Linked DNA regions of Homo sapiens: region 2 is linked to region 1. The links come from fine-mapping of genetic effects on gene expression. A gene starts in region 1. The other region holds a variant in brackets. All regions are shown on one strand. Distances are from middle to middle. Region 1 holds the start of LRRC39 (leucine rich repeat containing 39). Region 2 overlaps AGL (amylo-alpha-1,6-glucosidase and 4-alpha-glucanotransferase).

The links. PIP is the estimated chance that this variant, and not a neighbour inherited with it, causes the effect. A credible set is the group of variants that fine-mapping cannot tell apart.
Region 2: its variant is the best candidate, but not a certain one, in a credible set for the expression of LRRC39 in atrial appendage (GTEx, PIP 0.59).

What each region holds. Positions count from the first base shown.
Region 1 is chr1:100,175,375-100,180,768 of GRCh38, reverse strand. It overlaps LRRC39 (leucine rich repeat containing 39), which reads left to right and starts at 2,513. Exons shown (of 10, transcript NM_144620.4): 1 at 2,513-2,634.
Region 2 is chr1:99,877,055-99,882,448 of GRCh38, reverse strand. AGL (amylo-alpha-1,6-glucosidase and 4-alpha-glucanotransferase) reads right to left here. Exons shown (of 34, transcript NM_000642.3): 12 at 4,621-4,808; 13 at 2,403-2,526; 14 at 1,654-1,817; 15 at 1,272-1,373; 16 at 1,002-1,157; 17 at 758-908. Among named protein-coding and RNA genes, the nearest start is that of AGL, 29 kb to the right of the region's middle. The variant G/A (reference allele first, on the strand shown) is at 2,030.

The sequences.
Region 1 (5,394 bases):
AATTTTTTGTATTTTTAGTAGAGACGGGGTTTCACCGTTTTAGCCGGGATGGTCTCGATCTCCTGACCTCGTGATCCGCCCGCCTCGGCCTCCCAAAGTGCTGGGATTACAGGCGTGAGCCACCGCGCCCGGCCGATCATTTTTAAGTGTACAGTTCAGTGGTATTAAACACATTCATAATATTGTGCAACCATCACCACCATCTATCTCCATAATTTTTTATTTGTCCTTTTGTAACTGGCTTACTTAGCATAATGTCCTCAAGAATCATCCATGTCGTAGCCTTTGTCAGAATTCCAGAATTACATTACAGTACTTGCCTAGTAAGGGAGTTGCTGCTGCTGACCCCAGAACCAGCTACATCTGCTGAGGCTAGGCAACTTTTGCTGCCAAAACAAACCCCAGAACATACTGCCTTTGCTGCTACCCATGCCAGCAAAAATGGACACCAGCGACACAAGTCACCCAACAGAGCCCTTTGTTGGTGTATATAATTAGTGGAACCTTAGTAGTGTATAAAATTAGTCACATACCCCATTCCAGTAGCAGGGGAGGCTGGGATTTCTTTTCCCCCTCAAATTCTACCTTGGAAAGGTAGGATTCATGATGTGGGGGATTATAAAAATGTGGATGGTGTTCAAAATATTTTGGACAGTCGTAAATGACAGATAGATATTCATTATATAGTGCCTGTCTCTTTGCATTCACTTTCTACATCCCTCCAAAGTCACCAAAATTCTGGCTAATTTGTGTCATAAATAGCTCAGGCATCTATTCACTTTCCCTATCCTCCCGGGCATTTCTTTAGTGTAAGTCACTCCATGGGGATGGGAAATAAAAGGTAGATAAGGGAAGGAGAAGAGAGATGCCTTGAAATTTGTGGGTTCTCTATAAATACTGTCAAATTAAAATTTAATTGTACGTAGTGCCAAAGGCAGAAAGAAATCTTAATTTTCTCCAAGGTAACAATATACTGTTCTTTTTAACTGAAACAAAACTCCCTGGATCTCTCTCTCTCTCTCTCTCTTTTTTTTTTTTTTTCTTCAGACAAGGAAGGCTCTGTTGCCCAGGCTGGAGTGCAGTGGCACCATCACAGCTTGACCTCCCTGGCTCAAGGTATCCTCCCACCTCAGTCTCCCAAGTAGCTGAGACTACATATACACACCACTACACCTGGCTAGTTTTATTTTATTTTATTTATTTTTATTTTTATGGAGACAGGGCCACCATGCCTGGCTACTTTAATTTTTTTTTTTTTTTTTTTTTTTTGGTAGATACAGGGTCTCACTCTGTTGCTCAGGCTGGTCTCCAGCTCCTGGGCTCAAGTGATCCTACCATCTTGGCCTCTCAAAGTGCTGGGATTACAGGTGTGAGATCTTGATTTTTACTTATGAACACATGCAAGCACTCTGTATGTGTTGGGTGGTGTACACTCTCGGGACAGGGAAGTTAGAGTTTCAATTGTGGCCATGGCTTCTTTACTCTTTCTGTGATCTTGAGCAGTCCCACAACTCTTAGAACTTAATTCATTATAGAAGTGTTGGAGAATTTCTGTGAGATAATCAGGCATAAATTTTTAAAGCATTAATATTGCTGAGATGTCCAAATGACTACATAAATTATGATCCACCTACACGCTAAACTGCTATGTAGCCATTAAAAAGAATGACGCTGCTCTAAATATACTAATATGAAACAGTTTCCAAGATATCCTGAGTGAAGAAAAGACAGTATAGAACAATGTATATAGTATGCTACCATTTTTGTATGTGTGCATGCCTTCACATATGTGTGCTTTTAAGGGATATAGGCATATTTAAGCTCGTAAATTCATAGACCATCTTTGTAAAGGTACACAAAGAACTGGCAATAGTGGTTGCCTTCAGAGAAGAGAACTTGAAGAGAACCTCCCTACTGGAGGCAGGGATGGTGGAAGGGGTGGGGGATGGAGAGAGTGGAGATTGAGCTTTTGAATTCTGTTCCATGTGCATATATTATAAATTCAAAAAAAGATATAGTTTATTTTTTAAGAACCTGGAATTAAGTCCTATCTATGAAAGCTGAAGAGATCAAAGTGAGAGGTAATTTAATTTGAAGCCCAGGTACAGCAGAAGTTTGGGGCTTCTGTGTTACTCATGCTTATCCACACCTTTATTTTTTCTTTTTCTAAAGCATCTGGGTCTTTAGTTCAAATATTTGCAGATCCATGGTTTACTGGGTAGAATTTTTGTTGTGGCATACATCAACATATTCCAAGTTTCTCTGCTTGGATGGAATAGATGCATGAAATTCTGTGAAATGATTAAGCTGTGAAAAGTAGAAGGACTTTGAATAGGCATTATTTTTCAAGATCTTAGAAATAGTTATGCCTGATAGTTTTATAATGTCTGTAGCGTATTTTGCAGTCCACAGAACGCACTCACATACATTATCAGCTGATCCGTCGCAAAGAAGCCTCATGTGATTCTTTCTATTCTCAGCTTTGTCCATGAACTAAAATTAGAACTAGGCTGACATTACATTTCACTTGGTTACAGCTGACTGGGGATTTTAATCATTTGGAGCCACACTGAAAAAAAAATTTCCCCCTGCAATCTACTCTTAACTGATAGTCGCTAACTTTGGTTATGTGTGGTAAGTATTTGACAATGGTAAGTATTTTTCAAAAACATTTTTCCTTTCTTCTTCACATGTAAATAGATTGCTGCTGATACCTATACTGTGTCTGTATTGGTTGGAATGTCCAAACAAACTGGAATAGAATTTAAAAGTTTTTTTGCGGGGTGTTCATGGTCACTCATATAATTGTGCTCCTCTGGAAGATAGATTTCCCCAGAAGTAAGAAACAATTCTTCTGCAATTCTTTTCTATGCTTACCTCACTTGTCACATTATGTGCTTTTTTTCTATTATGGTACTAATCAGAGTAGAGAGCAGTCCTGTGCTGGAGGAAGAAATATATCATTATTGACTTGTGTTTCCCTAGGGGAAGTTGGTTGTTATAGGAAAACTGATGGATGAGCAACATTTAATGGCAAATGAGGAAATGAATTAGCAAATGGATGAATTGTTTTACATGTCTTCTAAAATACATGTATACATGTAGATACTTGGGAATTCAAAAATATTTTTATTCGAGTATTTAGCAAAAACTTCAAACTTTCTTAAATTAGAGACAATAAATTGTAAATTGGTTGCAATATGCTCAGGAAGTTGGATTACCAGTGTATGTATCCCAAGGTTTCTTCACAGCAAAGAGATCTCGCATTCTGTTCCTGAGTAAATTCGGCATGCCTTGCTTAGAGATTCTCTCAACAATTTCCTGCCTATGCCAATTATTTATCAATCTTGAAATTTTAAACTTTTTTCTGTAATATAGTTCTCCTCTTTCTTTGACTGTCTCACACACATATATACTGCATAATATTAGTTTAAAAAATCAATAATTTAGAAGAGGTTAATAATGAAAAGCAATATTATCTATCCGATTCCTCTCTATCACCAGTCCTGCTCCCTAGAAGTAATCATTTTAACCATTTTGGAATTTAGTTTTCAGTGGTTATCTCCATATTTCTCTCTTTTTTTTCTTTTTCAAAGACAATTGCATGCTATTTTTAATCAACTTTAAACATCTGTGGAGCTTCATTATGAGAGGTGGGGATTAAGTTCCCTTACACTGCCATAGAGTTATATCCCTATTTTTAGCTTCTCTCTTGATTACCTTAATAACTTTAAGCAAATACTTTAATCTTTATTTCTTGTTCCATAAGGTACAGACAGTATCTGTTGATTCCCCACTTCGAAGATGTGGATATCGGTGTTCTTATCATTTACTTCTTTTCCTTATTTCCTTCTTCCATATTCTGTTAAAAGTACTGTCACTTTTATGTTTTCAAGATATATGGCATTTATATTCTGTTCTGTAACCCTCAATAAGTCTTCCTTACTTTTTTATAGATTGATTTATTTCAAAAGTTTAAGACCAATACATAGACTTTACTATGTAATTTCTGTTTTCTGCAGAGCCAACATTTCCTTCTCAGTATCAATGTCATATTCATTGTACTAAAGAAGAATGTTAAAATAGATTCTCCTTTCCTGCACTTCAATAAATGCTAAAAAATCATGCCACATTTTGTTGGCTCTATATATGGACTGTGGCTTTCTTGTACAGTGTCTTCCTCAACACAATTTCTGACTGCCTTTCTTTTTGCTTATTGGGAGAAGAAATTTCATCTTTTCACCATATCTCCAATGTCACACAGTTTTTTCCCCCTTAATTCTAGCTATTTTTATAATTCAATGGATGAATACTGCCATTCCTTTTTTTTGTTTGTTTTTGAGACAGAGTTTCATTCTTGTTGTCTGGTCTGTAGTGCAATGGTGCAATCTCAGCTCACTGCAACCTCTGCCTCCCGGGTTCAAGTGATTCTCCTGCCTCAGCCTCCCAAGTAGCTGGGATTACAGGCATGTGCCACCACGCCTGGCTAATTTTATGTTTTTTTAGTAGAGACGGGGTTTCACCATGTTGGTCAGGCTGGTCTTGAACTCCTGACCTCAAGCGATCCACCAGCCTCCCAAACTGCTGGGATTACAGGCGTGAGCCACCATGTCCAGCTATTGCTTTTAAAACATTGTTTTACTTTATTTTTAATTTTTTTACTATCATGTAAAACATTGCTGGGAACAGTCTTGTTCATGTTTCCTGGTGGAGACACACCCTTCCTCTAGGTACATACCTTTGAATGGAATTGCTGGATCATAAGCTGTGCTTATCTTCAATATTAGTACATAAGTATTTCAAAATAGTTAATACTAATTTACAATTTCACCAATATACCAGGAGTCCATGAGGATTTCTGTAACTCAAATTCTCACCAACACTTGGTATAATCAGCCTTTTGAATTTTAGCCATTCTGACAGATGTTCATTGGTATCTTATTATGTTTTTATTAAGGTGGAGCACAACTTCATTTGTTTTTGGTCATTTGGATTTTTTTTTCTCCACAGGGAAAGTTCTACCATTTGGATTTTATTTTTTGAAAATTTCCTGTTCAATTGTATTTTCTGTTGCCTTTTTCAGCTGATTTTAAGGAGTTCGTTATATATTCTAGATGTAATCCATTGGTGGTTATATATATTGCCAATATCTTCCCCCACTAATGTACATGGTATTCCTTTTATTTTCTAAGTGATGTCTTTCAATAGGTTCTTAATTGTAATGTAGTCCACTTTATCAATCTGTGTTAGGCTGTTCTTGCATTGCTATAAAGAAATAACTGGCCAGGCACAGCAGCTCATGTTTGTGATCCTAGCACTTCTGGAGGCCAATGCAGGAGGATCACTTGAGCCCAGGAGTTCAAGACCAGCCTGGAGAATGTGGAGACATCCTGT
Region 2 (5,394 bases), 300 kb after region 1:
TTATGAAAAGCCTTAAACATAAGGTTATATTATTTTCCATTTTAGTTCGCATGTTTGTATGTATGTTTGTGCATATATACACACAAAGACATTTATACACATATATACATATACACTAACACAAATATACATATTGTTCTGCTAGAAGAGAAATAAATGTTCATTTTACACAAATTAGGAAATAAAATATAAACAAAAATATTTCACAACTCAAAAAATGTTAACATTTGAAAGTATTTCTGTCTAGGTTTTGTTCCATGCAGTAAAAATATAAGTTGCCAAAAATTTCTTTCTTTTTTTTTTTTTTTTTTTGAGATAGGGTCTCACTCTATCACCCAGTAGAGTGCAGTGGTGGGATCTGGACTCAGTGTAACCACTGCCTGCTGGGCTCAAGCGATCCTCCCACCTCAGCTTCAGGAGTAGCCAAGACTACAGGCATGTGCCACCATGCCCATCTAATTTTTTGTACTTTTTTTTTGATAGAGACAGGGTGTTACCATAATGCTGAGACTGGTCTTGAACTCCTGAGCTCAAGTGATCTGCCTGCCTCAGCCTCCTGAGGTGTTGGGATTACTGGTGTGAGCCATCATACCTGGCCAAGTTACCAAAAAGTTTAAATTCTTTTTCTCAAGTACGTCCACAGTAGCACTGTGTTATAATATATATGATATATACATGATATATAACCATAACATTACAGTATAATTTAATATAATAATATAATACAAATACAGTAACAATTTTTAGATTGCATTACCAGGGATGCACATTTGAGGCACTTCCTTGCTGTAAAATGAAGTCTTGGGATTCCTGAAAGCAGTTCTAGATACAGCCACAACAGACTGATGGATGCTAGGTGAGTGTCTTGTTACTGCCACTATGTCTTCATCAACTTGATCCACATACACCTGAGAAGCAGAAAGAACAACTAGATTAGCTCTCAAACTGGAAAGACTTACTCTGAAATTGAACCTGAAGAAACAAATTTAATTATTTCTTGCCTGAATAAAACCCTTGGCTCCAAGCTCCTGATGAAGTTTACTGATAGCACACCTGGCTGCAATAATGCCGCTTTGGAAATTAACTTCACCTGTGTTTGAAGGCAATGCTTCAGGATTCCACTTAGTGTAAAACCGTTCTTCAGAAACCACTGAAATCTGGACAAAGGTAAAATTTAGCATGGATACATCTTAATTACAATGAATTTTTTTTAATAAAAATGCCCAAAGTTGTTGGCCATGTAGGTTTTAAGAAACAACATATAAACAAACCTGATGAGGCACTAATTCATCATAGCCTCTTGTACTTCCACTAGCACAACATGCCATAGAAACAATTGTAGTACTTGGAAGAGCATCATACGCTGATCTATGCTAGAAGACAACAACAACAAAGCAAAAGTTTGCTTTCTTTCAAATGCAAAGTGCTATTCTATAGCATAATGAAGTAAAAGGATAATTACATAAATAAATTCATAAGGTAAATTAATTTGCTTTTAAACAAGTAAAACATTCTGAAAACTATGTATTATAAATCAGTTATAAATCTAAGACACTATTTTGAAGTATATGGGTATGATTGTGACCAAGTGTCAGAGAGTTAAATATCAAAGCATTTAGCAAAATAAGTACATGAAAAAGATTAGGTGCTTACCACAATAGGACACTCATTATCATGCGTAATATCCATAAACAGGGCATGTGCAATAGCTGGCATTAAAGGCCTCAAACAGGGCTGAACAAAGGATCCAACAGGTTCTCCTCCATATCGGTAAACTAATCTGCCCTCTTCATGACTATTATATGCACTCATTGCCTCTGCAGAGCATTACAGAATATTTTAACAATCTTCATTATTTATGTCCAGGAAGAGGTTAGATTTCTTCTCATAAATGATTTTCAAAATAAAGACCACATCAATATTATAAAAAATAAAACTGCTTTAAGGATTTAAACAAATGTCTACTAGTTTAAGTGACAAAAAAGTTTTCCCCATAACTTAACTGGAGAAATGGCTCATGTAAGGAAAA[G/A]GGAACATATGTTGTTTACTGGGATGTAAGCTATACAAAATTGATTATAAAACATCTAAACATTACATCATATCTCCCAGTAGAAGATGAAAAACAGGTTTGCATATTTTCAACAACAAAAAATGGTTTTGTTAGTGAGTCTTCAGTTCATCCTACTGGTCTTTCAATTTGAAATGAGGTATCTTACCCCAAAGTAGAAATTTATACTGATAAAAATAGACTGAGTTATATTAGAATATGTCATACAAAGTATTTAGAAGAACATTAACTGTGTTAAAAAATTATTAAGCATTGCATATGAAGCTATTAAATCCTTTAATCTACTTAAACAAAAGCTAAAGTTTTAGAGGGAAATACACTCCAACAAGCCTACCTCTTATTAAGGAACTAATGCCCAGTCTAGTAACAAAGACATTGTCCAGATCTTCACTTCCTGTGAACAGTTCAGCTACTACATATAAATTGGGTTGCAAATTCCTAGCAGCATCCAACATGTACTGTAAAAAGCACAGTGACAAATGTAACAAATAAATGTAACAGAAAGAGAAAAGCAAGATAGGAGGAAGGAAAGAGACAAAAGGAGGCATGATTTGACATAGAAAAATATGCAGCAAGATATCAAACATACCAAAACACATAGAAACAAGAGAATTTATCAAGAGAAGAAAACGGTTAAAAAGGAAGATTAGATTTTGCAAAGATATTGAGACATGAGAGAGGAAAAGAAGAAGAAAAATGTTAGTTTCATATTACTAAATGTAAATCATAACACTACAATTCTGTTAGGTTTTCTCCCTGTTTTTTGTTTGCTTATTTATTTATTTATTTATTTATTGAGACCAAGTTTCGCTCTTGTTGCCCAGGCTGGAGTGCAATGACATGATGTGAGCTCACCACAACCTCCGCCTCCCAGGTTCAAGAAATTCTCCAGCCTCAGCCTCCCGAGTAGCTGGGATTACAGGCACGCACCACCACACCCAGCTAATTTTGTATTTTTAGTAGAGATGGGGTTTCTCCATGTTGGTCAGGCTGGTTGCAAACTCCCAACCTCAGCTGATCTGCCTGCCTGAGCCTAAAAGTGTTGGGATTACAGGCGTGAGCCACCGTGCCTGGGCCTGCTTGCTTATTTTTAAAACTTTAATCAGACTTAATTTCCAGGTGGTTGACTAAATAATTATTCATAAATTCCCTGCTGGTGAATTACTTAGCTGTTGGAAAGATTAGATTTGTCTGACCAGACTGAAGCCAGTTTCTCCTACAGATGATGATAAATAACTCTTAAAAACTCTTACACCTTACAATTTCCACTTGTGTGATTTACGTTTAACACTGGTGCTATCTATCTAGCTGTTTATTATAAACACTGGTTTATAATAAAAAATCAGATTGGTTCCAAACTGTTAAACACAACATTTGCACAAAGATTAATAAAATACTTGAAACTCTATTAGCTAACAAGTAGAATCCTAGATTTTGTAATTTAAAATTAAGTAAATTAAGTTTGAACATTCTTTTCTGCCATGTAACAATCTTAGAAGCATATTTCTTTTTGCTATTGCTAAAAGCACAATAAAATAAAGCCGTCATTTTTTGGAACTAAACAATGTTCTACCAGCTTAACTAATATTCACTAAATCCCTCCAAATCAAATCAATTTTTCATCATAGGACTTGAAATATATATTATAATACTGCTTTAATATTATAGAAATAGACATTTTTTAGGTAAGCACACATTTCCAAAGAACACCTAAGTGACACTGGTCACTAGTAAGGTATCAAAAATCTTATAAGCAGTGCCACTGTAGGGTTTCTAAAAATAACAAAAAAAACTTATAAGCAGGATGAAAATTATGAGTTTAATTACAAAGATTGTATTAGATAGAAGTTAATACTATAAGTATTGGCATTGTTCAGAAGTTATTGTAAAGAGCTCAAAGAGAAATAGACAATGTTTATGTTTACACTTATAATTTTTATAAATAATAAAAATTAAATCGATGAGGCTAGACTGGCTTCAATATGCTATAATGTTAATGTTTATTTTTTATTTAATTTAATTAATTAATTTATTTTTTAGACAGAGTCTCACTCTGTCGCCAGGCTGGAGTGCAGTGGTGTGATCTCGGCTCACTGCAACCTCCACCTCCTGGGTTCAAGTGATTCTCCTGCCTCAGCCGCCCGAGTAGCTGGGACTATAGGCACACACCACTATAATGTGTAATAAGCTATTCACCTTCACAGTCACTTCTAAAATATATTGAAAGCAACCTAAAAATAACAAAAATTAACATTTTATGTATTCACAGTAGCCAATATGATTGCACTCCATATTATCAGAAACGTGATCAACTTCCCTAAATTAAAATTTTAAAATTAGCTAGTTAAATATTTTATAGCCCAGTATTCCATAACAACTGCAAAAGATTGTTAGAATTATGCTAATTATGCAATAGTGATAAATACTACCACCAAATCAATGCTTGTGTCCAACTAGCAAAAGGAAACATTTACCTGCATAGTTTACTTAAGGAAAGCTAGGAAGGAACACTGAATTTCTTTTCTTAATGTAGATAAATTGTTTTTCTGTACCTCAGCTACGTGAAGAGGTGTTGAGTGGCAGTTATCAAGACGTACTCCCTGGAAATAAGTTGCAGTTATTTCAGTGTATTTTTTCATGTGTGCCCAGAGATAAGGACAGTCCTCTGGTTTATTCCCATAGCGTAATTTAACACTGTCTCCCCAGCAAATAAGTTCTCTCCTTAGGTAAACTTCTGAACCTGTTCAGAAAAGAGATTGCTTTCAATGGTTCAAGAAATAAAATGAAAACAATTACTTCAAGGAAACACTGGTTTTTAAATTGCTTTGATCATTTCTGCCATAAATGATATATTGGTTAAATTATATCTAAAGTGGTATGAGATAATGTTTTAAAAAATTAATAATTATTTATTTCTCATAGCTATTCTGAAAAAACTCTAGCTTACAGTCTCTTCTAAAAATTTGTCCTCAATTTCAAAAACCCAAGTCGCATCATAAGGGAAAACAGAAATGTTAATATCATAGGCCTTTTAAAACCATAGTTCTACCAAAAACATTTAAAACTCCATCTCCACCCTCCTACTTATTTTCGGCAACAGGTTGTATTAGATCCATGGCATACAGCAGAATGGCTTGATTTCGTTTAGAATGGCTAGAAAAAAGAGGGCAGAGATACTTACACCCAAATTTATACTCTTAAAAAAAAGCATTAAGATTTCTGAATAAATTTTAATGTCACTAATATAGACTCCTAGTTTCGAAATGTTAAAAAATAAATATATCAATGGGCTCCTGCAACATTCTTCCTGGTAATGAAATAGCTAT